Linked DNA regions of Homo sapiens: all the other regions are linked to region 6. The links come from fine-mapping of genetic effects on gene expression. A gene starts in region 6. Each other region holds a variant in brackets. All regions are shown on one strand. Distances are between the middles of the regions.

Region 1 (4,387 bases), 210 kb before region 6:
GGAGACAAGGGGCCGTCGAGGAGGCCGGTGTCAGAGGCCCCCCAAACCTCGCGTGCCACCCACGGCCACAGAGGCCCCCCGCTTTCTTCTGGAGCCCTGACTGCTTTCCTGTCACGTGAACCCCCTGGGGTCCCTAAGCTGATGTCAGTGGATGAGGAGGATCAGGCTCGTCCCCCCGCCCCGAGACACCCAACACACCCGGGCTGCTAAGGACAAGATGCCAAAACCCGGCGAGGCTGCGTCACCTGGTGGGGAAGTCCCCGCAGCCGTCTGCAGGAGCTGTCCTCACCCAGGTTCTCACACACACACACACACTGCACGTGCACACAGACCACATGTACAGCATGCACACACATACGTGCACGAAAGTATACACACGTACTCACTGCACACGCTCACTGCACACACGCACTCACGTGCACACACACTGCATGTACACACATCTGCACGGTACATGCAGGCATGTGCACTCACTGCATACATGTACTCATACTGCATGCACAGGCCCTCACTGCACACACGTGTACACATGCGTGTACACACATCCACACAGTACATACAGGCATGTACTCCGAACACCTGCACACACTGTACACGTGCTCATGTACACATGCACTCACCACACATGCACACTGTGCACACACAACATACACCCCCACACAGTGTACACACACACCATACACCCCCACACATACACACCATACACCCCCAGTGTACACACACACACACCATACACCCCCACAGTATACACACACACCATACACCCCCACACAGTATACACACACACACACCATACACCCCCACAGTGTACACACACACACATACACCCCCACACAGTATACACACACACACACCATACACCCCCACACAGTATACACACACACACCATACACCCCCAGTGTACACACACACACACACCATACACCCCCAGTGTACACACACACACACCATACACCCCCACACAGTATACACACACACACACATGCTTCAGTGTCCCCAAGTCACTGACTGGGATAAGCATCTCCCTGTGTCCCAGGTGGGGTCCGGACTATTGAGGTGGCTGCAGAGGGTTGGGGAGGAAAAGGTAGACTCCAGGCAGGACCTCCCTGACAGTGCCTAAGCCCTGCAGCTCCCTGAGCTGACAGAGGGGACCCCGTGTCCCCCCATCCCCCCCATCCCATTGCCTGTGGGGGTTCTGCTACAAACAGGGGGTGCCACAGGGTTGGGGGGGAGTCACAAGTTTATCCCGGGAGGCGGAGGCAGCAGCAGAATCGTAGAACAGCGAAATCCTGCCCCGATCCCGAGGCTGAACCCACGAGGGCCCTGCTCAGGGGAGGCCCGTCACCAGCCAGTGTTGGTTGTGTCTGGCCCAGACCCCACCCCGGAGGAGACTCCCACGGACACAGCTCCCTTGACACAGCAGAGGGCATCCCAGGACTCGGCCAGGGCAGGGTCTGTGGGGTACCGGGCTTCAGCGTGGCTACATCGCGGCCATTGGGGAGGACAGCATCTGGGACACATCCCACGCCGTTCTGGCCCCGTTGGCCTCTGCATCCCCTGCCCCTCTAGCTTCTGGCCCGTCCAGCTCCTGGGGCTTTGAGACGGGCTCAGCCCGGGCAGCTCCAGGAGCAGGGTTGAGGGAGAGGCACACACAGGCAGACAGCGATGGGGCACGTGGGGAGGGGCTGCGGTGGGAGGAGAGAGGGCGGGGCTGGGAAGGGCCCGGGCAGCGATGGGGCTGGGCGCTGGGCAGAGCAGCAGGTCATGGGAAGGAGCCTGCTCCCCCCGGGACAGCAGCCTGGGGTCGACTTGTCACAGCAGAGGGAGAACAGAGACCAGGTTCCCAGGGGAGTGGAAGGGTTCGGGGCAGCGACCCTGAGGCAGAAGGTCGTGTCCAAGTGTGAACGCTGGGATTTTATGGGATGGTTGCATGTGTCC[T/G]TATGGACAAAGGTTTCTCTGGGAAACTGGACTTGGGTCAAGTCCAGTCCTCTGCGTCCTACAGAAATTCTGCCTTCCAGAACCTTCTAGATTCTTAAGTGACAGCTTCTCATCTGTCCCCACCTGTTGGGGTCTAATGGAAGGGGTGGATCCCCACCTAGGCATGTGGCTACGTCCAGCTGGGGCAGGTGGCCTGACTGTAGGACAGCCAGTCTCTCTTAGGCATTGGGCCAGGTGTCCACTCCACTGGCAACGTGAGCTGAGCACACATCATGTCCCTGTATGTCAGCATCTGTGTGCATCTGTGGGGCCTCCGGCCTGCCTATCACCCTCTTCTCCACCGCAGGACGACCATCTGGACCCACCGCGTCCGCTTCCTGGAAGAGCAGGCCCTGCCCCGCTGGGCGGCCTTCACCATCTGGAACGCTGGCAAGCAGGGGCGCCGGCTGTACCGCAGCTTGACTGCCGGCAGCCAGCGCAAGGTGAGCATCCTGCCACCCTCCAACACTGCCTGCCCTGCCCCCGTACTGTCCCACAGCACAGGCCCTGGCCCCGGCCTGTCCAGAGCTGCCCTTCTGTGCTTGTCCCCAGGTGGTGGCATTCTGTGACGTGGACGAGAACAAGATCAGGAAAGGCTTCTATTGCCACGAGGACTCTCAGGTGTGCAGGGCCGCATGGTGTCACCCTTGGGGTCAACCACCTGCTCCGGGGCTGAGGGACAGCTGCTCCGAGCCTTCCCCCTTGGCAGAGTCCACCTGGGCCGTGCTGGCTCCTCGGGGCCTCCAGGGAGCCCAGCCCCCATTCTTGGGGGGAGAACCCCGCTGTCCCTCGTGGGTCTAGGCCTTGGGGTAGCCCACCCTGGTCAGTTCTGCAGTCGGGTGTCAGGCGGGGGTGGCGGGAGCCGGGTTCCTGCTCTGAACACCTGCCGCAGTCTGTGACCCTGGCACGTTATCTGCTGCCCAAGCCCTGGCTCCTGTGTGAGCCAACTTGGTGGCTGCGTGCACCCTGAGGGCGTCTCTCCGGGGACAAGCTCCAGGCTCGGGCAGGACTGATGGCCACTGTCACTCTCAGGAAAGACCCAAGCCCCGAATCCCCATCCTGCACTTCCGAGCCGCCCGGCCACCCTTCGTCATCTGCGTGAAGCTGGTGAGTGTGGGGCCCTTGGCCGTGGAAGGGCTTGGGGATCCCGGGCTCTGCCACCTGGACAACCCGCCCTGCTGTGCAATGACTGTGTGGCCTGGGATGAGACCCCAGCCGATGGTGGGCATGGGGACAGGTGCCACAGCCGTCCACAACAGCACCACAGACCAGGCTGTGGGGTGGTGGCCGCTGCCCTGGGGGCAGGAGGCAGCTGGAGAGGGTGGCCTGCATGGGTGTGGGGGGGATGGATTCCGGTCTCTCTTCTGTCTTAAAATACCCATAAAGCCAACATTTGTTAGAAACTTGCAAAGCACGAGGCCCTGCGGTGCCATGTCTGAGGGGCCAAGGCCAGGACCTCCAGCTCCCGTGGACTGAGGTGGCTGCATCGGGGATGTCCTCAGCCCCTGAGTGTGAACGACCCTTGCCTGGGGTGGGCAGGTGATGGGTGCCTCGGGCTCCAAATGCAGCCTTTTTCCCCAAGCGTGGGGAGTCCAGGCTGGCTGCGGGGGGCTGAGGTGAGTAGTTTTTTTTTTTAATTTTACTTTAAGTTCTGGGATACATGTGCTGAACATGAAGATTTGTTACATAGGTTTACATGTGCCATGGTGGTTTGCTGCACCTATCAACCCGCCATGTAGGTTTTAAGCCCCGCATGCATTAGGTGTTTGTCCTAATGCCCTCCCTCCCCTTGCCCCCCACCCTCCAACAGGTCCCAGTGTGTGATGTTTCCCTCCCTGTGTCCATGTGTTCTCACTGTTCAACTCCCACTTATGAGTGAGAACATGCGGTGTTTGGTTTTCTGTTCCTGTGTTAGTTTGCTGAGGATGATGGTTTCCAGCTTCATCCATGTCCCTGCAAAGGACATGAACTCATTCCTTTTCATGGCTGCGTAGTATTCCATGGGCTATATGTGCCATGTTTTCTTTATCCCGTGTATCATTGATGGGCATTTGGGTTGATTCCATGTCTTTGCTATTGTGAATGGTGCTGCAGTAAACATATGCGTGCATGTATCTTTATAATAGAATGATTTGTATTCCTTTTGGGTATATACCAATAATGGTATTGCTGGGTCAAATGGCATTTCTGGCTCTAGATCCTTGAGGAATCACCACACTGTCTTCCACAATGGTTGAACTAATTTACATTCCCACCAACAGTGTAAAAGCATCCCTACTTCTCCACAGCCTTGCCAGTATCTGTTGTTTCTTGATTTTTTAGAAATCGCCATTCTGACTGGTGTGAGATGGTATCTCATCATGGTTTTGATTTGCATTTCTCTAACGACCAGTGATATCTCATTGTGGTT
Region 2 (4,387 bases), 170 kb before region 6:
GAACCCATCCCAAGGCCACCAGGAACCGTGGTGGGAGGGACGGCAATTGCTGCACAGAGCAGGAGCGGGCAGAGAGTCACCAGTCCCGCCGCGTGCGGGGCTCAGTGCCACTGTCTCCTCGAACCCCCACCTCTGCCACCTACGGAGGAGCCTCTCGTGACCACACAGCCAGCAAGTGGCAAACACCAAACCCACGTGTTCTTTCCACCGCTCCCCCGAAGCCCAGGAGCCGAGGCCAACAGAGCAGCCTTGGAGAGGCACTGGGGGCGGGGCAGGTGGGGGCCATGAGCAGAGGAGGTGCGTCGTCTACAGGGTGCTGCATTCCACGAGTCACCACCTGTGCCAATCCCAGGGGCAAAGTGCACCAGCATCATGGCCAGTGTGAATTAATCATGGACTTTTGAAATAAAATTTTGAGGCACTGATCATGATGCATTCAAATTCAATTAGTAGAACGGTACTTGGATCCTACAGAATGTTCAAGTTCCTTAAGAAAAAAAAAATAAGAAAATTGAAGATGCTAAGGAAAAAGAAATGCTAAGCATGGAGGAAGTCAGAGAATTACAAGACACCTAAATGTACTTCCATTCTTCATCCTCAATATCAAAACCTAGTCAACGTTGGTAACCATGGTTTTTTTTGTTTTTGTTTTTGTTTTTGTTTTTGAGGCAGGGTCTTGCTCTTGTCACCCAGGCTGGAGTGCAATGGCGTGATCTCGGTTCACTGCAACCTTCGCCTCCCAAGTTCAAGCAATTCTCCTGCCTCAGCCTCTTGAGTAGCTGGGATTACAGGCACGCGCCACCTCGCCCCGCTAATTTTTGTATTTTTAGTAGAGATGGGGTTTCACCATGTTGGCCAGGCTGGCCTCGAACTCCTGACCTCAAGTGATCCACCCGCCACTGCGCCGGGCCCATGGTTTCTTATCTATGCAATGAGATCAGCGTTACAGCTCTGTGAGTCCAAAGTCCACCTGTAACCCCCAGGACGGGAGGGGAGGGCAGGTGGCCGGGGACACACACACACACTGGCACCCACACAACATGACCAGGTCAATGTGTGCGAGCAGAGGTCCTGGGGTGCTGTTTTCTCATCTGCACAGGAGCATCATAAAGGGAGTTTCCAAACCTCAGATCCTACAGGACACGGAACTCAACAGAGCACAGTTACTATTGATGCAGAAAAAGTATTTCAAAGGTAACTATAATTAAAACAGCCAGAAGCAATAAAAAATTAAACATTCGGATTCCAATGGCTGTATTGGATTTTCTGGTTATAAACCGTGTAGACGCTACCATCCGGGATTCCAAATAGAATTATGCCCCCATTTGTCAGTTATCAGGCTACTGCAGGGACAGCCTCATGATGCACAGTCGCCAACACAAACACCATCCGTGACTAACACACTAACACCGCCACAGCGCCGGCCGGGAACGCCCATGCTCACTGTACCTTCATCTGCTGGCGGGAGTGACTTGAGATGAGATGGAGATGTCTCAAAGTGTCATTTATCAGCCATTGCCAACCATCTGTCAAAAAATCAAGTTAGCGTACCCAGGCAATCAAAAACACCATGAAATCAAAAACAACAGCAAAAACAGCTTCTATTAATACTAATCTTAAAGTCGATGGTAACCTTTGAGAGGAATCTGTGGAAAAGCCAAAGTGAACATTCTCCACGTTGTGTTAAGTCTAAGGCCCCTTCCTCTCATGGCTGTTAAATTGTGTAAGCTCTTATTGAGGGAAATACCAGCATTCTGTAAATTTTTATACATCACATTTTGGGAAACTTTTATTCTTTTGTTACCCCTAAATCTTTTCCTTCAAACGGTCTCCCCCGGCTCCCACCAATATAAACCCAAATCTTTAACTCAATTAGATCCTGCACAAGCAACAAATGTGAAGGCTATTCAATTAACAAAAAAAAAGTCCTAACTTCTGAGGCTGCTGAGACAGCCCCGGGACACCACAGCCCTGGGGGCTCCCTTCACTGTGCTCTGGCAGCCCAGTGTGGGGGGCTGCTGAGGAACTGGAGCCGCCTCTGCCCACAGGGTCCGTGGTGTCGGCGGCCGGCACGCTCCTGGTCCAC[G/A]AGGGCCTGGGTGGCTGCAGCTCCCGACTGTCTGCCTGGGAGAAGAACTGACCCAGAGTGCCGGGCCCTGGGCATGGAAGCGAGGAGGTGGGGGTACTGAGGTGACGGCGGGGAAGGGCCCTCCTGTGTTGGGGGGAGAGGGCGGTGGGTACCCATTATTTAAGCAGGTTCTTGTAACAACTTCAAGGCAACGTATCCGATTAATATCTTGAACCTTTAAGCTATAATCGTTTATCGCCCCCATCCTAACAGGTTCATTTTTACCTTTTAATCTGAAGTCATTCTGTAAGAAAATGCTATTATTAAAAACAAAAGCACTTACCAATTACGGTGTCACCTCTAAAGGGCATTTTGGAAAGTGACAACTTTTCTATTAAAACACACACTGGAAAAAAAAAAAAAAAGGATAGACGCAATGTTACTTTTCTAAAAGCGCCTGCCACAGCGGCTTGCCTTTGCCACATTCTGAGTTGTGTGCGGCCAGCTCCTGCCCCTCACCCGCCCAACCTACCCTGCTGCCAGGGCTGGAAACATCCCAGAACCATTTCAGAACCACCATGAGAAGCCCAAGACGCCTCCTCCGCTGAGCAGCCTGAAGAAAGTGCTGCAGACCCAGCCACGTGGCAGAAGGCCCATGTGTGAGCCCACGTGCACTTCAGAGAAGCCGGGCCGGCCTGTCAGGGAGCTGCAGACGTCCCTGTGACAGGCTGTACGGGAAGCATAGCGGCTTCTGCTCCTAGACCTGTCACTCAGGACCCAAGCGACAGACAGCCATCACCTGCAATGCTCCAGACCACAGGTCATGCCTGTCACTTCCCCACATAGCTCGTCACTCACACTCTCCATGACCAGAAACGTGGCCCTGACCAGCCACGAGGGGGCCAGGACGCACGAGACAGAGACGACTGGACAGCATCAGCAGCTCCCACGGCCACACACTGCTCTAGCTCCCACCGTCTCTACCTAACAACGGAACCCACTCGCAGACGCCTGCTGCACACTTGTTCATGGTATTTGCTATTTCTCCTGAGGGACTAAACTCTCCTTCCATTTTTTGTCACCGTGAACAAGGAGGCCTGACCGTGCTACAGATGCGGAGGCCGTCGGTCCACCTGGCGTCCCTGCACACAGGACAGGGACCACACACACACTTCCCATCGTCACAGATACTGCCACTCATCAAACTGAACAGACCAGACAACTCCTGTTCCACGAGAGACCCTGCTCTGTGTCTGTCAGCACCAAGATTCTTCAGTGCCAACCGCAGCCGACTGGAAAGAGGAAAACGGTCCTCTCGATGTGAAGTAACCTGGTACTTCCATGCCTCCGAGGTGAGGCCGGCACCCTCACCGTCCACGGCCACGTGAGTCTGCTCCTCTTCTGCATGAAATGCCCACACGTCTGCTCTGCCCCATTTCATACTGGATCCTTTACCTCGTCACAGGCAGTTTTACAATTTAGTCTTTGTACACTAATTAACTTTTTACCTTTTCGACTGTAGAACAGACGTTTATTCTCAATCTCCGTTTTCCCTACCAACCTACACATGGTCTATTCTTCAATATAAGGCCCAACATAATTATCTCCTTTTGTTTCTACCTTGTGGAATTATTATGATAAAATCTGTTAGCTGGGGATTACATGCCAAGAGGGGGGAAACAAAAAGAAACAAAAAACCCCAGAAAACCAGTTCTTACCACAAGTTAGAAAAACCCAGCGAGGGGCTGCTGGGACCTGACATTCAGGGTCTTCTTTAAACTCAGAGGAGGGGAGGAGAAAGGAAGCGCCGGGCGAGACTCTGGGCCCCCCCCGTAAACTACTTCTCTTTACTTCTGCGCAGATTTGAAAATTTCTAAACTAAGAAGTTTTCTTCAGAGACTGACACTGTCCTACAACGTCTCCTAAAATTTCTTCGAGGATTTTTATGATGGTAGTTTTTATGCGTAAGTTATTAGTTACTCTCACATTTAGTTTTAGATACGACTTTACCTTCTTCCACGTGGGCACCTGTGACACCATCACTCACTCAAGTGACACGCCTTTGTCCCAGCGCGAATCCTTTCAGCTCTGAACAGAGTACTGCTCTGATGTGTGTTGAGGACTGGGAAATGAAAGTCTTAACTAGTTTTTAAAATAATTTTCTTGGAGATGCACCTGCATGTGAACTTTAAATGTATTTTATAATCAAGTTAAAAACGGCACGCGCGGCTCAGCGGTGCCTCAGCCTCTCACGAAACGGCACGCGGGGCTCAGCGGTGGAATGAAGCGGTGCCTCAGCCTCTCACGAAACGGCACACGGGA
Region 3 (4,387 bases), 130 kb before region 6:
GCTGTTAAGCTAAATGTGAAAGATACATCCAGCTAAGGAAAAGTGAGCAGGTCCCACTGCAGAGAGAGCAAGCTCCGCTCCAGCCCGGTAGGGCGGGCACCGTCACCCGCTCCAGCCTGGCAGCGCAGGCACCGTCACCCGCTCCAGCCTGGCAGCGCGGACACCGTCAGCACCACATCCTGACTTCCGGGGCGTGTGTGTGAGGCGCCGGCCCTGCCAGCCACAATGCACATGACATCCCGTCTGTTCTCCTGTGTCTCGCACTGTCTGTCGCCCCAGACCCAGACCCAGACCCACTGGCCTTGCTCTCCGGTTTCACAGCATCCCGCCTGTTCTCCTGTGTCTCACGCTGTCTGTTGCCCCAGACCCAGGCCCACTTGTTCTCCAGATTCACAGCATCTCGAGCCTGTTTTCCTGCATCTCGCACTGTCTGTCACCCCAGACCCACTGGCCTTGCTCTCCAGGTTCACAGCACACCTCTCAGGCAAGGGGCTCACGTATCCTCATGTTCTCTGCGCTCCTCTCTCCTCGGCCCCATGAGTCCCCAGGGCATGGGCTCGGGGATGCTGAGCTAGGAGACCTACAAACTACAGCCACAGAACTGAAACTCGGGGGCATTTATCAGAGAGAGCACTTGTCCCCCAGCCTCCAGTGCTGGGCACAGGTGCCCGCTCCAGGCCCTGGAGATGGCCCAGAACACGCCACAGGGCCACAGTCTCCTCCAGCATGTCCAACGTCAGGGGCTGGGGGGGAATGGGCTTGACAGCGGGGTGCTGGGCACAGACTGAAGGAGGCAGGAGAAACAGGTGGGAAGGTCCCATGGGTGCGAGTGGGTCTGAGTGAGCAGCCCACAGAGGTGAGCCCACAGCAAACAAGGAGGAGCAGGACAGCTGGCCCCAGGGCCGGTTGAGAAAGTCCTCCCTGCGGCTGGACTCTGCACTTCCTCGGAGAAGCTGGGGCATGTGACTCGGGCCTTGTGACCAAGTGCTCTGCTGATGGGGATTTGGGACGCCCAACCATCCAGGAGCCCCAGGAGAGGCCAAAGGTTGGGTGGGGCAGCAGCCAGATGGCCAAGAGGGCCTGGGTTCTGGGGAAATGCCTGCAAGTCTCACAGGCTCTGCCTAGGAGGGAGGGAGGGAGGAAGGGAGGAGGGGAGAGGGGGGAGAGACAGAGAGAGAGAGAAAGGACCCCTAGAGTGTGGTCACTGAGAACCACAATAAAAACAGAAATTCATAGATGGAAAGGGTAGGAAGTTAAACTAACAATATAGCATAAACATAGGAAGCATCTTTTGAAATAAGAATGGCAAATGAAATTAAATAAAACAGAAACAACATAATACAAACCACCAGGTGCATTTTCCACCCCAATCAAGCTCAGACGTGCCGAGGCCCAGAGCGGGCTCCACAACGACATCAACGCAGCCCAAAACACGGCCACCAACCATGGGCAAAGCCAGGAGGGCACGTAGGCACGGGGTACCCCAAGGCTCAAGCAGAGGGGCCCCTCCAGCCCCAGCAGCAGGCAGCAGGCCCGTATCGGCTGGGAGCGAGAAGCTTCCATCCAGAGCGGGTGCGGGGCTGTCAGGAGTGGCCTGGCAGCTCTCCCCGCTGGCTGCTCCAGCATCAGCACAGCCCAGACCCACGTTCCGGGACCTCCCCAGGATGCTGCAGAAGCTCTGCACCCCTCATCGGCGGCAAGCGGCCTGACCGAATGAGCTACCGTTTACTTGGTTTAATTACTAACAACCACGGATCACCAGTGGATAAAGCGTTTATCTCACATTTTAGAGAAATGTTTGCTTATTGCAGGGACAATCTGTGGTCTCAGCGTGGAAAGGCCCTCTTCTACCACAGGGCCGCTTCTCAGCTCACCACCGGGCCGAGAGAGACCCCAGCGTCCAGGCCACAGCAGCAAGCCCAGGTGGTTGCAGTGTCCAGCCAGCCTTGCAAACAGACGCCAGGAACCAGAGCCAGAAAAAAAACAGAAGGATGGAGCCCAAGGGGAATAGGGTGGGAGGCTTCTGAGGGCTGGGGGAGGCCCTTCCCAAAAGCACTGGCCTCCCTGCCCTGAGGCCCTGCCCTGTGTGGCCACAGCCACAAACAGAGCCCAGAGCTATGGGAGTACACGGCCTCCTTCCCCGAGTTCCGCCTGGAGCCATCCAAAGTCTACCCCTCGGCCACTTGCTCACTCACACTGCAAGGATGGCCACAAACCACCACGCTCTGCACCCTGGGGAGACGGCAACAACAAAGTCCCTCACGTACGGGCCACTGCTATGCTCCGACAGACCCTGCGTCCTCCCCGCCCAGCCCCTCCTGCTCCTGTGGACAGACGGACGGACAGACAGGTGTCACTGTGTGGGGAGCCTGCGGTAGGGACCCTGCAGTTCCTGCTGATACCTCCGGGCCCAGCACCTCCCAACACCACGGAGGCCCACCCGCTACCTGCCCTGAGGGCCTGGATGCCTCCTCCTGCCAGATCCTTGGGGCATCCAGCAGCACACCCAGGTCTTTCAGTTCCTCCACGTAAACAACAACAAAGTCATAAGCCCAACTACCCTGGTCACAGCATATCTGTCCCCACCCTTGTCTTCAGCAGAATAATACCCACTCCCAAAGATAAGGGTGTCCCACTTCAAACATGTTCCTTTACCTGACAAAGGGG[A/C]ATTAAGGTTGGCAATCAGTTGACCCTAAGATGGGGAGAGGGCCCTGGATTACTCCTGCAGCCCAGCGGGTGCCGAACACAGTGGTACACACCAGCGGCCCTGGCTACACCTGTGCTCCATCTGTCTGTGGGAGGCAGAGGCAGGAGGATCCCTTGAGCCCAGGAATTTGAGTACAGTCTGGGCAACACAGCGAGACCCCATCTAGACAGACTGATAAGTAGACAGGTAAGGAGATAAATACATACAGGAAGGAAGAAGGAAGGACAGACACAGGAGGCAGAAGAAAGGACCACAGGCATAGGGTACGTGAAGGATGAAGCGAGACGTGGACGTGGCTGGCTGTGAAGGTAGATGAAGAGCCCATGAGCAAAGGAATGCGGGCAACTCAAGCAGGGAAGCAGAGTCTTCCCTTGAGCCCCCCTGAGCCTCCAGAAAGGACTGGAGACACCCAAGGAGACAGGTAGGCCTGTGACCGCCAGGTCCGTCCAACAATACACCACTCCAAAAAAAAAAAGGAAAGATCACTGGGATGAGTCTTAAGGGCACTGTGCCAAGTCAACGAAGCCAGAATGAAAAGCCTACTGATTATTTCCGTTTATAAGACACTCCAGAAATGGTAAACTATCAGGACCAAAATCAGACCAATGTTGGCCCAGGGTTGGGGAGCAGACTGGGGAGTTTTTGGGGGAGACGGACTGTCCTGTTTGGTGCTTGAGTTGTAGAACACAACCACATGCAGATTGAAGAAGCAACAATCACAGACCTGGGGAGCCCAGCACAGAGGGAAGCGGCAGACGTGTCTGCATCCCGGACCAGCACAGAGGGAACCGGCAGACTTGTCTGCATCCCAGACCAGCAGCACCAGAAGGGCTCACCCGAGCGATGGCCTGGCAACGCTATGCCCAGGGTGAGGAGGATGCACAGAGCGTCCCACCCTGAGTGGTGAGTCTGTTGCTCACACAGGTGTGGGCTGGCAGCTCCAAAATCACGTCAGATGCATGACGGCAGACGCACGGCAGCAGAGCGTGCTACACAGTAGGCCCAGAAGCGGCACACGAAGGGAGGCCAGGAGGAAGCTGGGCTAGAGCTGGTGTCTGTGCAAACATGGACTGTGAAGAGGGGCACACACTCAGCTACAGAGGGAGGGGACCTAGAGGCAGCTGAGGCCAAGCCCGGCGTCCTGGATTCCAAATACTGTTCTCCACCGAGAGGATGTGAGACTCCTGGGAAGTGGTGGATGCTAGGGCTGGGGCAGGGGCAAAAAGATAAGCCAGGTGCATCTTGTGGTGCCAGAAGGAAAGAAAAAAGGCTCAGGAAAAAAGAAAAAAAAAAAAAAAAAAAAGAACAGGATCTTGCTGAAAGGACACAGAAGCCAACCTGAAGTGGCCAAAGCTGGAGCAATTTGAGCAACATTAATAACAATAGTTAGTGTTAGATTATAACTCAAACAAAACTAGTAACAATAGTGTTAGATGATAACCCCCAAACAGGATGAGCACCCATGAGTCCACACTGGCAGGAGCGAATGATGAAATAAAGCTGGGAGAGGAACGAGCCTTCCTTAAGAACAAGCTGCAATCACTGAACGTCGGGGTGGGGACACAGGAACCACCACCAGACCACACAACAAGGTCTTTGGACAGAGCTCGGATGGGGTGAAAACCAAAGGAGAAACAGCAGGATGTTGCATAACCTTCGAGTACCCCACAAGAACACTGC
Region 4 (4,387 bases), 320 kb before region 6:
AAGGACTGGCCCTTGTCCCAGCTCTGGCACCCATGTTAGCTTTTGGTGAGGGACACAGTTTCTAGCACCTTCTGAGAAAGGACCTGTTTGAGAACAGCCAGACCCTGCCAGCCCCCACCCGGCCCAGCCCGGCTCTCAGAGAGGATGGGGTGGGACCCCATGTTCAGCGCTGGCCACCTTCGGGCTGCTCCGACAGCATGGGGTGGTGGGCACAGAGCCCTGCCCGTGGGGGTTGACACCTGACCCAGTCACCCTCGTCATGGGGCTGACGACGGCACCCATCCCGGGCACCCCTAGGAGCACAGGGGTCAGGCCTGTGTGCGGACCTGCCAAGTTCTCTGGGTTTCATTTTGTCCCCACCCCGCTGCATTCTCTCTACTTGTGCACACGTGATTTCCACAAATGATAAGCAGCCTCAACCATTTCCTGAAAAATTGGGGTTTTAGGTGAACCTCGGGGATGTTTTTCTACTGAAAAAGGTGAAATTAGGGAGATGCCTCCTCTAGGTCCGGAGGGGGACTCTGGCAGGGCGGCCGCCAGCCCTGCCTCTTGGGGTCACCGCGGGAAGGTGCTGGGTCCTGCTGTCCTCACATGCAGATGCGATTTCCACCACGGCAGCCCCCACGGCTGGGCTTACTGGGCCCGCGTGCCATGGGGGGAGCACCCGAGTTCCAACCTGCAACCCCCACGGATCCCACCCTGGGAGGACACCCCCATTGTCGCCCCCGCTGTCGCCTCCCGGGACCCCCGCTGCCGCCCCCCGCTGTCGCCTCCCGGGACCCCCATTGTCGCCCCCGCTGTCGCCTCCCGGGACCCCCGTTGTCGCCCCCCGCTGTCGCCTCCCGGGACCCCCATTGTCGCCCCCCGCTGTCGCCTCCCGGGACCCCCATTGTCGCCCCCCGCTGTCGCCTCCCGGGACCCCCGCTGCCGCCCCCGCTGTCGCCTCCCGGGACCCCCGCTGTCGCCCCCGCTGTCGCCTCCCGGGACCCCCGTTGTCACCGCCGCTGTCGCCTCCCGGGACCCCCGTTGTCACCCCCGCTGTCGCCTCCCGGGACCCCCGTTGCCGCCCCCGCTGTCGCCTCCCGGGACCCCCGTTGTCACCGCCGCTGTCGCCTCCCGGGACCCCCGTTGTCACCCCCGCTGTCGCCTCCCGGGACCCCCGTTGCCGCCCCCGCTGTCGCCTCCCGGGACCCCCGTTGTCACCGCCGCTGTCGCCTCCCGGGACCCCCGTTGTCACCGCCGCTGTCGCCTCCCGGGACCCCCGTTGCCGCCCCCGCTGTCGCCTCCCGGGACCCCCGTTGTCACCGCCGCTGTCGCCTCCCGGGACCCCCGTTGTCACCCCCGCTGTCGCCTCCCGGGACCCCCGCTGCCGCCCCCGCTGTCGCCTCCCGGGACCCCCGCTGCCGCCCCCCGCTGTCGCCTCCCGGGACCCCCGCTGTCGCCCCCGCTGTCGCCTCCTGCAGGTGGGATTTCGGGAGGTTCTTGGGTCATTCTCATCCCCGTGGAGGCTCAGGCTTCATTCCTTTAGCGAAACCTCATGTGTTTCCCGCACTTCCAAAAACGTCCAGCTGGAAGCCCTGAACTTCAGAAAGCAAAAGCAACTGAGTTTTCCCTGCACAGCCTGTGGCTCTCCCGGCCGGAAAGCACTTGTGTCACCCAAATGCCTGGGTCCTGGGCTGACCGTCCTAGTCTTTTGGAATCTAAGCTGAGCTGACTTAACCTAAATCCCTCCTTCCCAGAAGGGCTAAAGTGATCCTTTTCGTAGCTCCGCTAAGAGGCCTTTATCTGTGGCCCGGCTCATCCCAGAGGGGACGGGAGGGGTTGAGGTGAATGCCTGCAGGGTAACAAGATAAAGCACAGTGTAAGATGAGTGTGACACAAGGGGACAGGTCAGGCCCGGTCAGTGTGACACGAGGGGACAGGTCAGGCCCGGTCAGTGTTGCCACAGGGGCCACGAGGGGGGGCTTCAGGTGGGTTCCCCAGGACCCCCAGGACTCCGCACCTAGGCCAGAGCTCCGGACGGCCAGCAAAGCCAGCGAGACCTGATGCCTCAGGGCCTGCAGTGTCCAGTGCATGGAAATGGCCTTGGGAGGAGAGGCGGGTCCCGAGAGAACCCCAGGCTCTCCCC[C/T]AGGCGCAGGCACCCACACCACCTGGGCAGGCGAGGCCGAGCCTCCCCCCGCAGTTCCTCAGGACCTTCCTCTTGCCAACAGGAGCCCAGCGTGGAATCCCGCAAAGGAAACAGACAATGGGTCCGTGTCCACACCATGGCCACCAGAGCGCAGGTGTCACCTCCCCTTGAAACCCACAGCTGGTATCTTCACCATCGCCTCCTTCACAGGCAGAAAACAGACGCGGAGAGGCCAGCTCTCTCCCGGAGGCCGCGCGGCAGACAGGGGGCCGGATCCTACCCAGCGGGTCTCTCGGGTCCCTAGGGGGTAGTCCCCAGGCACCCAGACCTGCCTTGAGAAGAGTGTCTGTCTTGCCACAGCCTTCCCTGAGAGGCCCTGCGTGGCCCCAGGTAAGAACATGCACCGTCCCTCCAGGACTCAGGGTGAGGGTGCAGAGGGCGGGCAGCCGTGCCCAGGGTGAAGCCGTGGCCCCGGGTGAGAACACGCACTGTCCCTCCAGGACTCAGGGTGAGGGTGCAGAGGGCGGGCAGCCGTGCCCAGGGTGAAGCTGTGGCCCCGGGTGAGAACACGCACTGTCCCTCCAGGACGCACAGTGAGTGTGCAGGGGGCGGGCAGCCGTGCCCAGGGTGAAGCCGTGGCCCCGGGTGAGAACACGCACTGTCCCTCCAGGACTCAGGGTGAGGGTGCAGAGGGCGGGCAGCCGTGCCCAGGGTGAAGCCGTGGCCCCGGGTGAGAACACGCACTGTCCCTCCAGGACGCACAGTGAGTGTGCAGGGGGCGGGCAGCCGCGCCCATGGTGAAGCCCGGTGAGGCAGCCTGAGGCTGAGAAACACAGTTTCTTATGACAAAAGAAATTCACTTTCATGACAGAAAATGCGGATGAACACAGAGAACGACGTAAGAGTATCCTGAAACCTGCAGGAGGTAACAGCAGGGGTGGCATTTGGGGTGTCCTCCAGGGCGCAGGACTCTTGAGGGGATGGCTGGCTCGGACCCGGGGTGCTCCTCCAGCCGGACACGGGCCCAGGAAGCCCGCACTGTGGGGCTGAGTGGAAACTGCATCTGCGTGGCGGGCACGGCACGGTGTCTGCGATCTGGAGCTCTTCAGGGAAGGCCAGCCTGCGGCGGCGATGACGATGACAGATGGCGAGGGTCCGAGAGCCTCGTTACCCCACAGTGACCCGAGACGTTCGGGACCAGGAAACTTCCCGAAGGTCGGCCAACCCGAAAGTGGCCAGGGCCTCCAGGCACCAGGTAACAGAATAAGAAATATACATTTGGCCTCTGCCCTGGTTCCCCACACCAGCTCCGAAATCGCTTGGTATTTCCTGGGTGCTAGGAGCGTTTTTTTGTTCAAGGAGGTGACTCTTGGGGGCCCCTAGACAGCTTCAGGATGGGGTACGCTCACCGGGAAGACCAAACATCAATTAGAAGCTTGGAACTTTCAGTCCCACCGGCCTCCAGGGAGGGGAGAAGGGCTGAGATTGAATAACGATCCATTGGTCATGCCTGCCGGCTTCCATTAAACCCTTTAACAGATAGAATCCGGGAGCTTCTGGACTGGGGAACGCATGGGAGTGTGGGGGGTGGACAGAAACTCCTGCACTTGGGTCCTTCCTGGACCCCGCCCTGTGCACCTTGTTATCTGGTTGTCCATCTGTATCCTTTATTACATCTTTTATAGTGAATCAGTGAACGTAAATGAGTTTTTCCCTGAGTCCTGTGAGACTTAGAGCAAATTATCAAGCCTGGGGAGGAGTCGTGGCAACCCCCAACTTTGTAGCCAAGTCAGACGGAGGCGTGTGAACCCTGGGCACCCGATACTTGGGACGGTCGCCTGCAGAGGGGCAGCTTGTGGGACGGAGCCCCAGCCTGCGGGGTCTGCGCTACCTGCAGGTAGTGTGAGAGTCGAACTGAATCGTGGGACACCCCGTTGGTGTCCACTGAGAACTGGAAAGTTGCTTGGTGTGAAAATCCCGCACATTTGGTGCAAAGTGTTTAGAGTGTAGAGAAACAGATGTGTTCCGTTTCAGCCTGGGTGACCAGCCGGGGCCCTGGATGGTCTTGTCTGCCCAGCCCCCAACCTTTTCTTCCCCTGTCTGTGGGGCTGGGATGGAGCTGCTGATAAAGCCGGCTGTGCCCAGGCCCAGGCTGCGGGCTGCACGCTCCTCCTGGGGCTCCGTGACCGACGCGCAGGGCATGCTGGGGACTGAGCGCTTCTTGGGACTCAGAACCCTCCCTGCTAACATCAGGAAAGT
Region 5 (4,371 bases), 140 kb before region 6:
ACCACTGAGGAACCCTGAAACACAGGCAGCTGATGAGGCAGGCAGCAGATGAAGGAAGCTACCTGCACGGATTCTAAAACGGGGGAGCCCCAGCGACAGGAGGTCAGTCAGGATGGCGCCTCCTGGAGGGAGGGTCATGTGCACCACACTGACCACAGTGGTGGTCATTCAACAGCTCACATCTGCCAAACCCGCTGCCACACTTAAACCCATATTGAAAACTGGCAATTTTACTATATGTAAACTATATGTAATAAAGTAGATGTACAAAGATAAAGCTGATTTTTTTTTTTTTTTTTGAGACGGAGTCTCATTCTGCTGCCCAGGCTGGAGTGCAGTGGCGCGATTTCGGCTCACTGTAACCTCCGCCTCCCGGGATCAAGTGATTCTCCTGCCTCAGCCTCCCGAGTAGCTGGGATTACAGGGGTGCGCCACCATGCCCGACTAATTTTTGCATTTTTGGTAGAGACGGGGTTTCACCATGTTGGCCAGGATGGTCTCGATCTCTTGACCTCGTGATCTGCCTGCCTGGGTCTCCCAAAGTGCTGGCATTACAGGTGTGAGCCACCGCACCCGGCCCAAAGCTGATTTTTTTTTAAAAAGGCTTTGACTTAGGAATATACAGGATACTGAAAGGGAAAGCCACGGAGCAGGAGGAAATATGTAGCAAGGAAGCATCTGAAAAAGGAATTGTATGCAGAATTCATGAAGAATTCTCAAATTCTCAACAGGAAGAAAACGACTAACCTAATAAGTAAATGGGCGAAAGATGTGTTAAACACGCCCCTGAAATGGATGATGACTGAAACTGCATCATCAGTCACTAGAACACGAGTTAGTCAGCTGCTCCCACACCCCCATGACAATGGCCAAGCTTGAAAGACCAACACCCCAGCACCAGCACGGACCCCAGATCCCGGACCCCGAGCTTGAAAGACCAACACCCCCAGCGCCGGCAAGGACCCCAGATCCCGGACCCCGAGCTCATCCAGCACCGGGGGCGCGTGGCACCATCACGCCGAAAGCCATGTGGCCATTTCAGAAAAAGCTACAGGCAGGGTGTGGTGGCTCACACCTGCAAGGCCAGCATTTTGGGAGGCCAAGGCAGGTGGATCACTTGAGACCAGGGGTTCAAGACCACCCTGGGCAACATGATTTGTCATCTCCACAGAAAAATACAAAAATTAGCCGGGCGTGGTGGCGTGTGCCTGTAGTCCCAGCTACTCGGGAGGCTGAGGTGGGAGGATCGCTTGAACTCAAGAGGTCGAGGCTGCAGGGAGCCGCGATTGCGCCACCACACTCCAGCCTGGGTGACAGAGCAAGGCTCTGTCTCAAAAGGAAAAAAAAAAAAAAAAAAAAAAAACTGACAGCACAGCCACCCAGCTCTGGGCATCTATGCCAGAGAACAAGAGTGCAGGCCCAAAGACAGATGTGTACACACATGTTCACCGCAGCTGCACCTGTGACAACCCAGACAAGACACTGCCCAGAAGCCCCTCACCAGGTGAGTGGAGACAGACGCCACGTACCACACCCCTGGCCCTGGAGGCTCGGGGGACGGTCCCCACAGGCGGACAGTCTGCAGGAAGCATGGAGCAGAGGAAGCCAGTGTGAGTGAGGAGAGTGCCCACTGCCTGAACCCATTCACACAGAGCTTTGGGAAATGCAGACACAGCTGCAGTGAGAGCAACAGACCAGGGGTGCCTGAAGAAGGGGGTGTGGGAGGGGAGGGACCCCGAATGGGAAAGGGGAAACCTGGGCCTTTTCTCGTCTTGATTGTGGTGATAGGTACGAATTTACAGATGTTAACATTTACAAAAATGTACCTATTGAACATGCACCAGCTTACTGGGGGTCGTTTACACCCCAACGAGGCTGTGATGATGAACAGGAGAGTGGGGCGACGGCTGGTCCCCCCATCCTCCTCGTCTCGCCCCACAGTCTTCCTGGGGTGCCCGTTAGTTCAATTCCAGTCTGTGTGTCCGAAACTCCAATTTGCAGAGGAAACATCTCCATGTCAGCACGGCTGATGCTTCCTCGCAGGCCAGCACGTGCAAGCTGAGGCCCCAACCTCCTCGCACTCAACGACACTGTCGCCCTCAGCTGTGCCCTCCACCTGCGGAGTGATGCCAACACAGCTCTGAGACCCTCTGTAATGCCCTGGCAACTCCCACCTTCCTCCAGCGGGCACACCTCCAGGCCCCCAGCCCTCTCCCGTCTCCCAAGAGCCCTCAAGCCCTCTCCTTATTTCCAGTCACCAAATACAGCCACAGGGATATGTTCAAAACAAAGACCTGACCATCAAAGTGCCATGACCTCAGGACAATCCACACTCTTCACTATGGCTCAAAGGCCCCCAGCAGCTCCCCGCCAGGGCCCAGGGCCCTGCTAACTCTCCTCCCTGATGGGCTGTGCTCAGTCCCATGCCCTCTGCTGAACAGGACCACTGCCTCCCTCACCCCAAGGTCCAGGCTGACAGCAGGACCCTGCCTCGGGTGCAGGGGGGCCCCGCGGTACTAGGGTGCAGCCATGACTGC[A/C]GGTCCCCGTGATGCCGCCCTCAGGATTGGAGGGGCCTGCCTGCCGGTGCGTCCTCACAAGTGGCATCTGGTCTGCACGCAGGGCCTGGCATCGTGAGGAAGCCAAACACACTGGGGGAAGACATGCCTGGACCCAGGTCTTGGGTTGGCAAATGTTTTTATAAAACGCACACAGCTAATTACATGCGAGTTTTAGGCTGGCTTAGAAACCTCAGCAACAAGGGAAATATGCTGAAGCTTCCCATAGCTGTCAGGTGTGTTACTCAGGAAACTCGGGAAAAGGTGGTAGATTGTCTTTTTCTTTAGATGGAGTCTCACTCTGTCACCCAGGCTGGAGTGCAGTGGCACGATCTCGGCTCACTGCAGCCTCCGCTTCCCGGGCTCAAGTGATTCTCCTGCCTCAGCCTCCTGAGTAGCTGGGATTACAGGCACCCGCCACCACGCCTGGCTAATTTTTGTATTTTTAGTATTCACGGGGTTTCACCAGGCTGGTCTCCAACTCCTGACCTCAGGTGATCTGCCCGTCTTGGCCTCCCAGAGTGCTGGGATTACAGGCATGAGCCACTGCATCGGGCCAGTAGATTTTCCACATAAAATATATGGCCAAGTATTAATAGGAAAGAACTGATAAGGCAAAAAAGGACATTAAATGTTGAGGAAACCTGAAAGGGTATAAAAATACAGATAAGTGTGTTCAAAGATCCTTCCTGGGAAAGAGGCCAAATGCTACATTTTCAAAATTCTGCCCAGGCTGGTGACGGAGAAACGTCCTTTCTGCACGGTCTACACAGCAGGGCTGTTGGGGAATCGATCTTTAGGGTATTTAATGGTTAATGTTAAAAATGCATCGGGCATGCTTCTGGTCCTAATTTAAGGCAAATAAATCACTTCATAAAGTCACACCCCACTGCACTCCAGCCTGGGCAACAGAGCTAGATTCTGTCTCCAAAAATAAATAAATAAAGTCACACCCTTTTTCACATTTCTGCTGCAATGGATCAACTAAGATAACTGAAGTAACCTCCCCAGTACCTAATTACACAACTAAAACAGTTTGATATAATTCTGTAAACTGCAATTAGAGGTGCTAAACATTTGTTTCTAACCTGATTTCTAAAATACCTCTTACTCATTTCATAGACAATCTACAGATAACTTCAACTTCAAAACACTTCCTATTACCGAAACAGAAAGAAACAGTCCCTTCTAATCCAAGATTTCACGGTGGGAAAGCATTTAGGACATCCAGTAGGGAAGCATCAGGAGGAGGTGTGGCCGTGCTTGCAGCTGCTTCCTCTCAAACTCCAAGCCCCACACAGAACCAGCACGGGTAAAACGGGGCGACCAGGAGAAAAATCATAAGCAGAGACAGCACTCACGGCAAGGCCGCACTCCTGAAGCTGAGCCCCTCTTTAACACGTGAGTAAATGTCCCCTATCTAGCGTAGTAAAGCATGAGGTGTGTCCAATCAACATGAAACACAAGTTTCAGTCACTGTTCCCAATTCCATTTTTAATTTTTCACACAAAAACTACATTCCATTGAGTGGACATTACAGGATGAAAAAAGAAAATGGTGGTAGCTGATTTCTGACATCCAATCTGATTTTAGAGTATTCTATTTTTGTGATATACATTAAAGACTTACCTTATAACCAGGAAACAGTTGGATCTGTTACCGACGGCAAAATAGTCAGCTGTGGTCAAAATATCAATACCATGAGGGAAAGTGCCCTAATAAGAAAGTGGAAATGGGGGAAAAAGAAGAATTTGAATGAACAAAGGCATTTCACCAAGTTCAATAATCACATCCACAGACATTTACACTCATGAAC
Region 6 (4,267 bases):
TCAAATTCTCAGGGAGACTGATCTGAGTAATAATAAAACTCCAGCCGGGCGTGGTGGCTCACTTTGGGAGGCTGAGGCGGGTGGATCACGAGGTCAGGAGATCGAGACCATCCTGGCTAACACGATGAAACCCGTCACTACTAATAATACGAAAAATTAGGTGGGCGTGGTGGCGCGCACCTGTAGTCCCAGCTACTCGGGAGGCTGAGGCAGGAGAATCACTTGAACCTGGGAGGTGGAGGTTGTGGAGGTTGCAGTGAGCTGAGATCTCATCACTGCACTCCACCCTGGGGGACAAAGTGAGACTCCGCCTCAAAAAAAAAAAAAAAAACCTCTAGTCTAGTCTCCCTTTCAACCGGCTCTGCGTGAACTAAATCTTCTCCATGGCAACTCCCCTGCCCTGACAAATCAACTCTATCTGGGCAGCCCGCAGAAAGAACCCACTGGGGCCGAGCGCAGTGGCTCACACCTGTAATCTCAACACTTTGGGAGGCTGAGTCGGGCGACCACTTGAGGTCAGGAGTTTGAGACCAGCCTGACCAACATGGTGAAACCCCCTCTACTAAAAATACAAAATTAGCCGGGCGTGGTGGCGCGCGCCTGTAGCCCCAGCTACTCGGGAGGCTAAGACAGGAGAATAGCTTGAACCTGAGAGGTTGAGGTTGCAGTGAGCCAAGATCGCACCACTGCACTGCACTCCAGCCTGGGCAACAGAGCAAGACTTCGTATCAAAAAAAAAAAAAAAAAAAAAAGGAAGAAGCCATTGGGCTGTTACACCAGGAACAAAAAATCTGGCTTCACTGGTCCCTGGATGAGGGTCCCTCACCCTCAGAACAGTTCTGCACGAGAGGCATCGTTATCCGCCCCAGCTTACACCCGAAGAAACAGGCAATCAAGTATCAGGTCCAAGCGACAGGGCCAGAATTCACAGGCAGGAGGATCTGACGCCGAACCCGCACTCCTCCCACAAGGCCCCCCACCCTGCCTGACTCCTAAAATCAAAGCGCTGTCATTCTAAAATGAGGAAGGCCAAATAATGCAAAAGTTCTTCTTACTCAAAGGGTCTACAAAGATGATTTTACTGAATTACAAAACCCCATGTAACTACTTAGCTATGAGCTCCTAAGGACTTGTTTGGAAATAACCCATTATAGACAGCGGTAAAGGTGGGTCTGAACTCGGAGAATTTAGACTCATCGAATGGCCTCCACAGGGGTACCTACACCCCACCCCGCCTGCAGAGGCACGGACCCGGCCAGCCCGCTCTGTCCACGGCGTCCACGGAACGGACAGGCTGCTGCCCTCCCCACCCGAGGCGCGCTTTGTTTGCAGCAGGTTTGTTCCCTGCGTCCCCCTCTCTCATTCCCTATCTCCCTGTCCACACAACATTCACAGAAACCGCGCTCGGTGGAGGCAAGCCTGGGAGTCCACACTGCAGGGCTGACCAGCTGTCCGGAGGGGTCTGGCCCGAGTCTCCCCAGCCCAGGGACCTCCTCCAGTGACGGAGACGGGGGACGGAGGGCTTCTGCACCCCGCCTCCCGGGGAGGCCGCAGAGGCTTCACCCCGTGCGAGAGCAGGCGCTCCGCGGGCCACGGTCCCCCCAAGGGAGGCGCGCGTCTGCCCCGTGCACCTAACGCCGCGCCGGGGTGGCCCTCTCCCGCCTAGGAAGGCCGCGCCCCACCACGGCCCGCGGGACCGCGCACCGGCAGCCCTCGCAGAGCGGCCGGCGCCGCCGGGCTGCGGTCCCCGCCCGGTAAAGTGCACTCAGCGCGCCGAACCCGGGCCGGGGGAGGAAGCGGGCACGCGGCGCCGCCCACGCACCGCGGAACCGCTCCAGGGCCACCTCGCGCTCCGCGCCGCCGCCGTGCACCTCCCGCAGGCGGCCCAGCAGCGCCCGGGTCTCCGCGCTCTCGCCGAACGCTTCCAGCGCCGCGCCAAAGGCCAGTGTCTCGTCCTCCGCCTCCTCCTCGGGGCCGCCCGCGGCCGGTTCGTCGCTCAGGGCCATCTCGGCAGCCTGGGGACCGCGCCCCCGCCTCACGTGTTCGCAGATCCCACTCCGCTAGAGCGCGAAAGCCAGGGATGAAGGATGAGGGATGAAAAGGAGGCGCCCGCTAAGGCGGCAACCGACGCTGGCCCCGCCCCGCGACCTCCGACCCCACTCGCCGGCCTCGCTACGGAACGCGTCGGCCGCCAAAATACCGCGCGCGGGACGGCGCGTGCACTTGAGGACGCGAGCGGGCACGGGTCCCAAAGGCTCTGGAAGAGCGCGCCGTGGACCCCACAGGGCGCGAGCGGAGCCGGGACCGCTCAGCGGGGCCTGAGCACGCGGTGGGCGGGGCAGGACAGGAGGTGGGGCCTGAGACGCGGTGGGCCGGGCTGCGGGGTGAGGCCGCCGCCGGAGGACAGCGGGGCGGAGCCTGAGCAGGCGGTGTGCGGGGGGGCGGGGCTTCGGGATGGGGCCGGGGGCCGCCAGGGCGGGGCTTGAGCACGCGATAGGGGGCGGGGCTGCGCGCAACGGGGGCGGGGCCCGGGCACGCGTGGGTGGGAGGGGCAGGGCTTGCGGTGGGGCCGGAGACAGCGGGGCGGAGCCACAACACGCCGGGGGGCGGGGCGGGGGCGGGGCGGGGGCGGGTGGGACCGGGGGACCGCGGAGCGGGGCGGAGCCTCAGCATGCGTGGACGGGGAGGGGCGGGGCCTGAGCACGCAGTCGGGGGCGCGAGGCGAGCCCCGGGACCCACCCCTCAGAGCCAACCGCCCTGACACTTATTCGCGCCACGCTGGGACCCGCGCGGATCACACGGGCCCCGCGCCGAGTGGTGGCGCGCCCCAGAGCGGGAGCGGGAGCGGGGCCCGGAGGCCGCGGTGGGCGCTGCGCCGACTTTGGCCTTGGCTACCGGGTCCGCGTGCGTTTCCCCTGAATCGCCGCAAAAACGTCCGTGCACAGCTCGCCGTGCGTCTGGCCCTGAAAGCAGCCCCACGAGCGGAGGAACGAGGCGCAGGACGCCAGCCGAGACCCGCTGCGGGCTTTATTGGTCCCCAGGATCTGGGAGGGGTCGGGGGAAGGGGGACAGGGACAGGGGGGACGGGGACGGGGGACGGGGACGGGGGGACGGCGATGGGAGACGGGGATGGAGGATGGGGACGGGGGAACGGAGACGGGGACGGGGCAGGGGGGACGGGGACGGAGATGGGGGACGGGGATGGGGGGTCGGGGACAGGGGGATTGGTATGTGGACAGGGGGACAGGGGGACGGGGGACAGGGATGGAGGGACGGGGACGGGGGGACGGGGACAGGAGGATGGGGGGACGGGGGGATGGAGACGGAGGGACGGGGAGACGGGAACAGGGGGACAGGGACGGGGGCACAGGGACGGGGGACGGGGGGACAGGGACGGGGAGACGGAGACGGGGACGGGGACAGGGGAAGGGAGGGCAGGGGCCGCTACTTGAGCAGCCTTCGCATGGTGCCCAAGGAAGGGCTCCTGTACTCCCGCCCGAAGTGGTTCCAGTGGTTCAGGTAGTTAAACAGCTGGTAGAGCAGCAGCCGCTGGTCGAAGCCCGGAGCCTTGGGGATCTTCCGGTGGTAGGCGGTGAAGAAGGATCTGGGGAACCCCCCAAACATCAAGGCGATTGCCAGTTCAAACTCGGAATGGCCATAGAAGGAAGCCGGGTCGTAAATAATGGGCCCCACGTCGTCCTCAGCCACGTTTCCCGACCAGAGATCCCCGTGGAGCAACGCGGGGACAATCTCTAGGCCACAAAACAGATCCGGGATCTTCACCTACGAGAGCAACGGCTGCAGTTATCGCTGGCCTCTGGGAGCCCCGGTCTCATCACCTCGTTCTTGGAAATAAGGCAAAGCCCACTCGCGATCTGCTTCGGTGTCCAGCCCCAGCACTGCCTGCCAAGCCCAGAAATAGGGGCCACCTGACTTCAGGGGAGTCTAGCTTTGTCTAACTTAGGATTTCCTCCTAATTTAGGTCTAGAATCCCCACACAGTGGAGAACCTCTGAGGTTATAGTTTTAATCGACCCACAGAATAGGAACCAGTGTTGCGCTACCTTAGCAAACTCTGGCCACTTTTATTTCGCTACACATATATGTCTGCAGGTTTTGTTTGGTTTTGTTGTTTTTTTCTTTGAGAGGGAATCTTGCTCTGTCACCCAGGCTGGAGTGCAGTGGCGCCATCTCGGCTCACTGCAACCTCCGCCTCCCGGATTCAAGTGATTCTCCTGCCTCAGCCTACTGAGTAGCTGGGATTACAG
Region 7 (4,387 bases), 93 kb before region 6:
AAGAATTAAATTGTGGCGTTATTTGTACAAACAAATTAAAATTTAGGTATTGGCATGACAAATCTCAGACTTCAACTTACAAATAAAGCCCTCCACTACTCATCAACGTCAACAAATGTCCAGAAAGAAAGCTTTCCCCAAATTCTCTCATACACCTTGGCTGTATCTCACCACAAGAGCCAAATCAACTCCACTTTCATTTCTCTGCATCGCTGAGTTGTCTGACACAGTCAGTAAAACCCCACTGATGTTCTCAGGGTTGTTTCTTTTTTTTTTTTTTTTTTTTTTTCTTTGACATGGAGTCTCGCTCTGTTGCCCAGGCTGGAATACAGTGGCATGATCTCGGCTCACTGCAAGCTCCGCCTCCCAGGTTCACACCATTCTCCTGCCTCAGCCTCCCGAGTAGTTGGGATTACAGGCACCCACCACCACGCCCAGCTAATTTTTTGTGTATTTTTAGTAGAGACGGGGTTTCACTGTGTTAGACAAGATGGTCTCGATCTCCTGACCTCATGATCCGCCCACCTTGGCCTCCCAAAGTGCTGGGATTACAGGCGTGAGCCACCACGCCCGGCCTGTTTCTTTTTAATGAGAAACCAAATGTCTCCTCGGCCACCTGTAGAAAATGGCTGAGCGGTGCCCACAGCGCCCAGAGCAGGTTGGGCCCAGACCTTGGCCACGACCACAGGCACATGGCGGGTGAGGACCCCGGGGGTGCAGCTGGGCTTGGCCATGTTAGCCTGTGTGGCCCAGAGACCAGACACCCGAGGCCCGGCTCCTGGACACGCGGTCCCAGGCAATGAGGGTGGGTGGGGAGGGAGGCGCCCCTTCTCAGCTGCGCTCTGTTCAGTTAAATCAACTTCCCAAAACACAGGGGCCTGCAGGGGTTCTCAGGCAGGTGACCATGTAACACAGGGGAAGGGCTGTGACCCGCTCCTGGGCTGCTGCTCCGAGGTGACGGGGGCAGAGAGGTGTCCAGGCCTGGCTGGCGGCTTCCAGACAACCCGAAGGCAGGGCCTAGAGCCCTAACCCAAGCCAGCAAGCCTGTGTACCACCATCTCCGAAATCTAGGACAGTCTCCAAGCTTCCCCTGGGTCTCAGCCAGTCTCACTACCGCCAGGGACGGAAGGCAGAGGCCACAGCAGGGCCCTGCAGCAGCAGGAAGGGCACCTCACTAGGGAAGAAAACCAGGAAAGGAAGGGGAAGGGGAAACAATGGAAGTCCCAAAGAGAGCAGCGGGCAGCAGAGGGCTGGACGAGAGGACACGGCACATGGGACACAGCGCATGGAGGGGGCAGCAGAGGGCTGGACGAGAGGACACGGCACGCTGGACGCAGCACGTGGAGGGGGCAGCAGAGGGCTGGACAAGAGGACACAGCACAGAGGACGCAGCGCGTGGAGGGGGCAGCAGAGGGCTGGACGAGGGGACGTGGCATGCCGGACGCAGCACGTGGAGGGAGGCACAGGGCTTACACCCTCACCCCCTAAGCCTCCCAGTCCCATCCCACAGTTCTGCCCACTGGCCTGAGTCCCTTTAGAAGCGCAGAGCCCTGAGACACAACACAGCCAGGCGAGAGGTGCCCTCCGGCCCGGAGCCGTTCCTGAAGCTGTGCCCTCGGGGGATAGAATGTTGCTGTGTCTCCCCTACAGCCGCGTCAAAATCAGACTGGGAGGCTGATGCCAGGCCTGTGGATTTTCCGCAGAGTTTTCATTTCCTTTCTCCTTTCCTCTGGATGCAGCA[C/A]CTCACAAGGAACACAAAGGATTAAAACAGAAACAATCTTGTATTTTAAGAAGATCCAAGATGTGACGCCCTTCCTTCATCACAGGTGTTCTGTGAGAGATGCTCACAAGTCCCTTTCACGGACAGGAAGACCGAGGCCCAGGGAGGTCAGCAATTGCTGCCCCAAGTCACAAAGGGTGAAGATGGAAGAGCCAAGACTTGAGTCCCAGCACACAGTGCACTGGAGAGGATGCTGCTGCGGAAGGGACCGGGGTGGGCTGGGCAGGACGGAGAGGAAAGGGCTGAGCCGGACAGGACGGAGGGAGAGCAAGGGGCCAGGCCAGACAGGACAGACGGAGAGGAAGGGGCTGGGCCACACAAGATGGACAGGAAGGGGCTGAGCTGGACAGGACGGAGAGGAAGGGGCCGGGCCGGACAGGACAGACGGAGAGGAAGGGGCCGGGCCAGACGAGATGGAGAGGAAGGGGCCGGGCCGGACAAGATGGAGAGGAAGGGGCCAAGCTGGACAGGACGGAGAGGAAGGGGCCGAGCCAGACAGGATGGACAGAGAGGAAGGGGCCAGGCCAGACAGGACAGAGAGGAAGGGGCCAGGCCGGACAGGATGGACGGAGAGGAAGGGGCTGGGCCGCACAAGATGGACAGGAAGGGGCTGAGCTGGACAGGATGGAGAGGAAGGGGCCGAGCCGGCCATGTCCTGTGCCTCACCCCCGACCTGGAAACTAGGAAAGCTCAACCAGGACTGCACTTCCAGCCTGTGTGCCCCTAGGGAAAGAGGCCCTGACACAGAGGCCGCGGCGCCAGCACCTGCCTGGGTCCCTGGCACCCCCCAACACACACTGGCACCGGTGCTTACCCCCAAGAGCAGCCACCACCCCAGGTACCCCTCCTTCCCCACCCAGGGAAGCACCCCCCACCTCTGGTGTAACTCTGCTCATCGCCCTCTGGGCTGGGTACCTCGGCCATGTTCCCGACCTGTGGGTGGGGGGACTCCACAGGCCAGGTGCGTGGTGCTTCTGAGTAAATGGACCAGTGCAGGTGATGCACCTGGCACGGTGCCCCACACCATCAACACGCAAGAAACATCAGCTGCCACCCCCATGACGGTTCCTAAGATTTGGTCAAAAACCTAATCGCAAGAATTCTGAGTAACACAGGGGGTTGAACATGTAAAAAATAGCGGGTAAAATCCCACTAAAAACAGCAGAAACGGACCATTTTCTTTTTTCAAGAAATAAGCTACAGGGTAGAAGAGGAAGGGCAGGGAAGGCAGCACCAGGACCACGGAGGAGCCTGGAAGTGCAGGGACAGCAGGAAATGCCTCAGACCAAGAAGCCCAGCCCTCCCCTGGAGGGAGGCAACTCAGACTCCCCCTGATCCACAGGACAGGTCCCTAAAAAGCTCCAGATCTGTGGCACCAGAGAACTCTGTGGGGAGGGGCAGGGTAGGCCTAACCCAAGGAGCACTGGGGCAGGAGACAGGGCTGACTCTCCGAGGTGCTCAGCAGAGGCCCTGGAAGGCAGGCAGCCACACTGACGATGCAGGGAGGGCACCAGGCATGGCATGGCGCTCCTGCAGTCCCAGCTACCCGGGAGGCTGAGGCAGGAGAAGCACTTGAGACCCGGAGTTCAAGTCCAGCCTGGGTAACACAGCAAGACCCCAGGTCTTTAAACACACACACACACACACACACACACACACGGAGAACATCCACCCCCACTCCTCCACTCCCCACTAAAAGAAAGCTATCACTAAAATCCTTAGATAAGAAAAGCTACTGAAAGTACTGCATGAGAATGAGATGCTACAAAAGGAACACTCAGAACAAAACAGAGCTCATGGAAACCAAAATCAGAAACCAAGTACTTAACAGAAGTGTTGAAATATAAAGTTAAGAAAACTAAGACTACTGAGGATAAAGGAAAGAACCTGCAGGTGAGAAACAGCTGTCCATAAAAATCAGGAATCACTACTGACATAAAATTCTACAACACATAAAACTAATCCATGGTGGAAAAGTATCAGCCTGCAGTTGCCACGGTCTGGGTGGGGAAGGGTGGCACTGCTGTGACGGAACTCTCTGGGGCCATAATGGGAGAACACATTTGTCAAAACTCGTTAAATGATCCTCTTAAGACCTGTGCCCTTCACTGAATGTAAACCTTACCTTTGAAAGAAGAATCATAAACTAATAAGAATATGCCTGAAAAGTGTTTGGGGCAAAGCATACTGATGTCTGCAACTGACCTGAAATGCAGCAAGACGATTAAGCTGGATGGGGAGGGGAAGGGAAGGGTAAGTAAGCTGGACGGGGAGGGGAAGGGAAGGGTAAGTAAGCTGGACGGGGAGGGGAAGGGAAGGGTAAGTAAGCTGGATGGTGAGGGGAAGGGAAGGGTAAGTAAGCTGGATGGTGAGGGGAAGGGAAGGGTAAGTAAGCTGGACGGGGAGGGGAAGGGAAGGGTATGTAAGCTGGATGGGGAGGGGAAAGGAAGGGTATATAAGCTGGACGGGGAGGGGAAGGGAATGATAAGTAAGCTGGACGGCGAGGGGAAGGGAAGGGTATGTAAGCTGGACGGGGAGGGGAGGGGAGGGGAAGGGAAGGGTAAGTAAGCTGGACAGGGAGGGGAAGGGAAGGGAACACAGACAGCT

Which allele goes with the higher level. Positions count from the first base shown, and alleles are read on the strand shown. Sizes are in standard deviations (SD) of each study's normalised expression. Not every link is listed here.
With allele T in place of G in region 1, the expression in fibroblasts of the gene that starts at base 2,135 in region 6 is lower (small effect, 0.29 SD a copy in GTEx).
For the expression in tibial artery of the gene that starts at base 2,135 in region 6, allele G in region 2 goes with a higher level than allele A (small effect, 0.24 SD a copy in GTEx).
As copies of C replace A in region 5, the expression in monocytes of the gene that starts at base 2,135 in region 6 goes up (moderate effect, 0.67 SD a copy in BLUEPRINT).

What was found. PIP is the estimated chance that this variant, and not a neighbour inherited with it, causes the effect. A credible set is the group of variants that fine-mapping cannot tell apart.
Region 1: its variant is the best candidate, but not a certain one, in a credible set for the expression of TBCD in fibroblasts (GTEx, PIP 0.68).
Region 2: its variant is the best candidate, but not a certain one, in a credible set for the expression of TBCD in tibial artery (GTEx, PIP 0.62).
Region 3: its variant is the best candidate, but not a certain one, in a credible set for the expression of TBCD in whole blood (TOPMed, PIP 0.70).
Region 4: its variant is the best candidate, but not a certain one, in a credible set for the expression of TBCD in whole blood (TwinsUK, PIP 0.66).
Region 5: its variant is the best candidate, but not a certain one, in a credible set for the expression of TBCD in monocytes (BLUEPRINT, PIP 0.75).
Region 7: its variant is the best candidate, but not a certain one, in a credible set for the expression of TBCD in whole blood (INTERVAL, PIP 0.58).

The regions. Positions count from the first base shown.
Region 1 is chr17:82,955,392-82,959,778 of GRCh38, reverse strand. QTGAL (queuosine-tRNA galactosyltransferase) reads left to right here. Exons shown (of 13, transcript NM_001009905.3): 9 at 2,285-2,420; 10 at 2,530-2,598; 11 at 3,010-3,084. Among named protein-coding and RNA genes, the nearest start is that of QTGAL, 94 kb to the left of the region's middle. The variant T/G (reference allele first, on the strand shown) is at 1,939.
Region 2 is chr17:82,918,640-82,923,026 of GRCh38, reverse strand. TBCD (tubulin folding cofactor D) reads right to left here. Exons shown (of 39, transcript NM_005993.5): 24 at 2,409-2,471; 25 at 1,450-1,526. Among named protein-coding and RNA genes, the nearest start is that of ZNF750, 81 kb to the right of the region's middle. RefSeq lists an enhancer at 1,970-3,169. The variant G/A (reference allele first, on the strand shown) is at 2,087.
Region 3 is chr17:82,878,683-82,883,069 of GRCh38, reverse strand. The region is part of intron 14 of TBCD (tubulin folding cofactor D); the gene reads right to left. Among named protein-coding and RNA genes, the nearest start is that of ZNF750, 41 kb to the right of the region's middle. RefSeq lists an enhancer at 1-385. The variant A/C (reference allele first, on the strand shown) is at 2,668.
Region 4 is chr17:83,065,216-83,069,602 of GRCh38, reverse strand. No RefSeq gene overlaps it. Among named protein-coding and RNA genes, the nearest start is that of METRNL, 12 kb to the left of the region's middle. The variant C/T (reference allele first, on the strand shown) is at 2,129.
Region 5 is chr17:82,893,446-82,897,816 of GRCh38, reverse strand. TBCD (tubulin folding cofactor D) reads right to left here. Exons shown (of 39, transcript NM_005993.5): 17 at 4,185-4,270. Among named protein-coding and RNA genes, the nearest start is that of ZNF750, 56 kb to the right of the region's middle. RefSeq lists a silencer at 1,755-2,014. The variant A/C (reference allele first, on the strand shown) is at 2,538.
Region 6 is chr17:82,749,933-82,754,199 of GRCh38, reverse strand. It overlaps TBCD (tubulin folding cofactor D), which reads right to left and starts at 2,135. Exons shown (of 39, transcript NM_005993.5): 1 at 1,823-2,135. The coding sequence starts at 2,006. It overlaps FN3K (fructosamine 3 kinase), which reads right to left. Exons shown (of 6, transcript NM_022158.4): 6 at 3,004-3,783. The coding sequence ends at 3,445. RefSeq lists silencers at 1,574-1,893, 2,584-2,943.
Region 7 is chr17:82,843,259-82,847,645 of GRCh38, reverse strand. The region is part of intron 13 of TBCD (tubulin folding cofactor D); the gene reads right to left. Among named protein-coding and RNA genes, the nearest start is that of ZNF750, 5.4 kb to the right of the region's middle. RefSeq lists enhancers at 1,826-2,325, 2,326-2,827. The variant C/A (reference allele first, on the strand shown) is at 1,742.